2 separate regions of the Homo sapiens genome follow, and region 2 is linked to region 1. The links come from fine-mapping of genetic effects on gene expression. Tissue or cell type: fibroblasts. Region 1 holds a variant in brackets; the other region holds the start of a gene. All regions are shown on one strand. Distances are between the middles of the regions.

The links. PIP is the estimated chance that this variant, and not a neighbour inherited with it, causes the effect.
Region 2: it holds the start of GDF6, and the variant in region 1 is fine-mapped to the expression of GDF6 in fibroblasts (GTEx, PIP 0.98).

What each region holds. Positions count from the first base shown.
Region 1 is chr8:95,800,871-95,803,553 of GRCh38, forward strand. All of the region lies in intron 3 of CFAP418-AS1 (CFAP418 antisense RNA 1), which reads left to right. Among named protein-coding and RNA genes, the nearest start is that of GDF6, 360 kb to the right of the region's middle. The variant C/T (reference allele first, on the strand shown) is at 1,128.
Region 2 is chr8:96,159,305-96,161,987 of GRCh38, forward strand. It overlaps GDF6 (growth differentiation factor 6), which reads right to left and starts at 1,502. Exons shown (of 2, transcript NM_001001557.4): 1 at 983-1,502. The coding sequence starts at 1,388.

The sequences.
Region 1 (2,683 bases):
AAAAGCAATCTTGCTTTCAGCCAAGTCTTGTCTTTTCCTTTTTTTTTTTGTAAAGCAATGAAGTTATTGCATGTTCCAAAGGCATCGTGAGGTACGGCCACCCCTTTGGCATGGCATGTCTGTATGCCCAGGATGCATATACCCAATTAGTGAGTTCCACATGACTGCTGGTGTTGGCAAACATCTACATCCAGCTGGTGCTCAGACTTTTGGGGATCAGTGGAAATTTTAACAATTATTTGACACAGACTTATTCGGTCAGAGAAACGGTTGTATCACAGAGAGCTAAATGTCCAGAGCTAATGAAAGATGATGCAGTGATTAGATTGACTTGCAATCTGGGTAATAATTTTTATACTTGCATTTTGACCACATAAATAAAAGAATGGGACTGATTTTCCGACTGCATTGCATATGAAGGGAGGAGAACGTTATTCTCTCTTCCCTCTTCATCTGAATATTAGAACTTTTTAAACCTTCAAACATGGCAGGGGCACTTCCACCCATCATTTGAATGAAAGCCAGTCTCACCTGTCTGTCTTTCCATTCAGCAGGGAATCACTTCATGTGTGAAGCAAGCAAAAAAGATAGACATGTAAGCGCTTTCTCTGTCTCTTGTAGAATTTTTATCTTTTGGCCTTTTCCACTTCCTAGTCTGCATATGACCTAATATCCTATTCCTCATGGCCAACTCTTGATAACAATGAGAAAACAAGTCCTGATAAATGTGTTATGTATTCATTAAGCATTTCTATCTTGTAAGACTTTTTCGTTTTTGTTTTGTTTTTGCAAAATCATGACAATATCTGCTATATTTCAGATATTGTTTTAACAAATCTGTAATCTGAATGAAAGCAGGATTCGTTCTATAATTCTCAGTTTGGATGAGAAATAAATGATAAACAATGTCCCACTGGAAGAGACCCCTCCAAAACATCATGCCAAAGGAGGGAGACCACCATATTCAGTGAAAATATTTAACACCTTGGACTGTTTCCCAGTGGGATGCAGACCAGACAAGAAGAACAATTCAGGCTGCTTAGGAGACTGTCTGGGGATCTCTGTGAATGGCATCTGCACTGGATAGATATTTCTTCCCCTCAGATTCCTGCTCCTGTGTATGTGCA[C/T]GACTTACAGCTGAGTCATACTTTTCAAGAATGAATGTGGGTGTCACAGTCAGTGATCTGTGATCTATTCCTGCTCCTGTGTATGTGCACGACGTACGAATGAGTCATAGTTGTCAAGAATGAATGTGGGTGTCATCAACAGTGATCTGTGGTCTATCATTTCATAAATAGATTGTTCCAAAAGTACTTTAGGCACAACTGAGCACAGATAGTCTTTGGATGGCTTTAATCCAAGCCCATTTCAATATGCCTCTTTTTATTGTCCACACTTCTTTCTACTACCACTAACTTAAATAATTCATATAATCAGCTAGAAGAGTTTTCAATGAAAACTCATCTTTGAACACAAGAAATAAGGACTGAGAAGTGGTGAACAACTTGCAACTGAGGTATTCTGAAAATAGTCCTAACATAATGTCCCCCAGGTGTAGCCATATATGGTAATTTGGTAAATCAACAATGAAGTCTTATGCAACAGTGAGAATCTAAGTATCAAGCACTAGATGAGGTACTGGGCAAGAGAAATACAAAAGAGAACACTGCTTTACCCCATCCCCAAGGAGATCTCAGGGACAGAAATGTCAGCATCTACCTCAATACAATGACAGCTGAGTGACTATCTCAAGTGAGAACTGAAGAACGTATCACAGGAGAGCTGATCTTGGAGAAAGAAGAGGAGTTGGCTTATTAGAAAAGAGAGCCTGGTCGCGGGTGCCTGTAATCCCAGCTACTCGGGAGGCTGAGACAGGAGAAGTGATTGAACTCATGAGGCTGAGGTTGCAGTTAGCCAAGATCACACCATTGCACTCCAGCCTGGGTGACAAGAGCAAAACTCCATCTCAAAAAAAAAAAAAAAAGAGAGAAACGAAAAGAAAAAAGAAAAGAAAAGAAAAAGAAAAGAAGAGGACATAGTCATTGAGAGAACAATGGCTCTGTGGTCAAAGGCATGCCAATGTGAAAATCATGACACATTCAGAAGATCGTATAGCTGGATATGTCTGGAGAGGGTCATGGGCGGGCCACGGCACAAAATGAATTTCTTGTCAAGACACTATAAAAACCTACACAGATAAATCAGGGGAGATTTGTTATAGGGAATAATAATATTTCACTGAACTCAAGGCTAGGAGGTACAAGTAGGCTGAGGAACAGGAACAGTATTGGAAACTGAAGCTCTCTACCTTTGTCTTTGTCTTCCTCTTTCTGGGCCATGAGGTCACTTATGGCTGCAGCTCAGTTCACTGGTCAACAGTTCTGAATTGTTCAGTCATTCATCATTCAGCAAGAATGCATGTGCCCATCCTCTGTGCTCAGTGTGCTCTTTATTAACTACATTGTGATGGAAAATGGATCAGGGCTGGTTTCATGGGCAGAGACTTACACAGTCAAATGGTCCCACATTTGGTTTAACGCACTGCTACCACTATCTTGCAATTCTGAATAATTTCATGAAACTTGTGTTTTGTAAGAAAGTCTAATGGGATGAGGGAGCATGCACATGAGCAGAGGAAATGTCCACAGTGCCTTCCCATTCACATATAGCATTTGTGATGACA
Region 2 (2,683 bases), 360 kb after region 1:
TGCCTGTGGATCCTTCCCTGATTTCTGGGACCAGAGGTGGTGCGAGGTTTTCTTGAGGGCACTGGCCACGCTGCAGATCAACGCCGGTGGCAAGAAGGGGCCGCAAGGGTTTCCGCAGACACCCACACATGCAGGCGTTCCCACAGAGGGTACCAGGGATTTCCCAGACCCCCACCAGCCCTCAGGAATAGCGTAGAGAGAGGAACGTCGCCTGGCTGAGAAAGGTGGATGGGCATACCCATGTACCTTTGTGTATTAAGTACCCACAACCTCCGAACTTAGCCGTCCCTGTCCCGGCCCGCCCAACTGCTGCCGCCGCATCTGCAGAAACCACTCGTGTTGAGGCCTCGGAGCAGCCGGGAGCACCACGCTGGAGCAAAAAAGCCGGAGGGCGCAGGGCTCCAGCCCGGCTGACCATCCCACCCAGCGCAGGGACCAACGGAAAACCCGCGCGGCGCCAGGACCAGGGGGCTGCCCGACGCCGCTCGCGGACTAGTTCCTCAGACTGTGGGACTCCCTAGTGCCGGCTTTGCCCAGGGCTTTCCAAGGCTGTCTCATGCCCTAGATCTGCCCCAGCAGCTCAGGCCTTGGACTGCGAACCCAGTATCCCGAGACACCGATTCCATCAGTCCCCATCCCGACCCCTCTCCAGCCGGGTTCATCCGCCTGCTGCCTCCCGTCCTCCACGTTTCCCCCACCAGCCACCAACAAGCGGCAACCACGCTGCCTTCTGCAAAAGAGGAAGAAGGAAAGAAGGGAGAGAGAAAGAAAGGGGGGGAAAGGAAGGGAGGTTTAGAGACTGGAATAGAATCCGCAGCCACATTCAGAAACTTACTCGAGCTTGAGAAAAACAATTTAAGAAAAGTAAAAAGGAAGTGTCCAGAGCAGGAAGGGAATTCACAAATGTAGCCTCCAGCGGGAACAGCTCCCTGGCTGCCGAGCTCCAGCGGGAGGGGAGTCGAGCGTTTTCTTTGCCACTTACCTAGTCCCCTGTCTACAAAGCTGGTGATCGTATTAGCCGACTTGGAAGACTGGAAAAAGCTGGCATTGATGCCCAGCTTCTCAGCGATGGAGTAAGTCCTGTAGATTGACAGCATGTACTCGTGGGGCACCACGCGCGGACCCCTGCCTGGCGGCTCCTGCGCCCGGGGCTGCTGAGCCCGGGGTTCGTCCTGAGGCCGCGGCTGTGGTTCCTGGCCCTCCCGGCCCGCGTCACTGTCGCGCGGCGCCCGCTGCATCTTGCCTTCCTTGCGGCTTCGCATGCCCTTGGTGGAACCCAGCTCGGCGGACGACGAGGAGGATGAGATGGAAGCCTGCTGGAAACCGGGCAAATCCCACAGAAAACTGATGAGGAAGACGGCCGAGAGCAGGACCCTGGGAGTATCCATGGCGGGCAAGTGGCTGCGTCTCCCCAGGAGGCGGTGGCGGCGGCGCAGGACGCGCGGGGCACGGAGCGGCTGGACAGCGGCCGGGGCCCGGCTCCTCGGGCGGACTCGGAGTGCGAGGAGCCGGGTCCCAGCCACACAAACCCCGGCCCCGCCACGCCCCCTCCCGCCCCTCGCCGGGAGGGGAGGAATGGGGAGGGAGGGCAGAGGAGGGGTGGGGAGGGTGGGAGGAGAGCCGGGTGGTGCGGGCCGGAGGTGTGGGGGAGAGGGGCCGCGGTGCGCCGGTGTGGCAGGAAGACGCAGCGCCCCCGCGGGACGCGCGCGGGGTTGCCGGGCGGTGCGCGCGGCGCGGGCCGCAAGCGCTGACCGGGGGAAGGCGGGCGCTGCCGGCCCGTGGCCGGGGAGCAAAGGCTGGCCCGCCGCGCCAGGGTCCCCCTCGAACTCCCGGAGGTGTGGTCCCTCCGCAGCGCGGCCCCGGCTCTCGGTCCTCGCCAGCCGCCTCCACTTTCCTGGGAGCGAGCGGCCCCGGAGGAGGGAAGCGGCGGCGGCGCCCCCAAGAGACAGCTTGGAGCAGGCGCCTCTGCTGCAGGCTGCGTGCTGCCTCGGGGCGGTGGTACCCTCCCTCCTCGGCCCCAACCGCCAGGCCTGCCGTTTGCGCCCCTCAGGGGCCAGCCCGGAGCCAGAGAAGCCTCGCCCTGGGCCAGGCGCAGGGCCCAGCTCGGAACAGCCCCATTTTCTCGGTTGGGTATCGCTCTCCACAAAGACAGGCGTCTATTCCCGACCCTCGAGGTCAGGCAAAGGCCACGAGTCTTTAGAGTTTGGATCGATGCTAAAAGCTGCTGCGCTCCCCTGCAGGCCCCAGCCTCTCCTCTCGCAGTCCCCAACCTCTTCTGACGCAGACTTTAGCTGCTCCACTTCTTCGTCTGCTCCCGGGATCCTCTCCCTCTCGCGGCCTGCCCCCCGCCTCCACTGCATCCCCATTTTCCCTCTCTTCTTTCCCTCCCGCCTGCAGGACTTCCTCCTTCCCCAAGTTCCTTCTGCATTCCAATCCCTCTTCCCCAGCCTGCTTTTCTTCTCACACTGCCCTCCCATCTCACACTGCCTTCCCACCCTCTCTCTTCCCGGCCTCCCCCCTCGCCTTCCAGTGGACCCCTCCCTTTGCAGCTCTACCCCAATCTGTTTCTCTTCAGCCCAGCCTCGCCCCATCACGAGTTTCCTTTATCTGTCCCCAGATTCCCCGTGCCTGTCTTCCCCGCCCACTGCCTCGCTCATTCCTGGGCCTGCACGCTGAAAGGCGA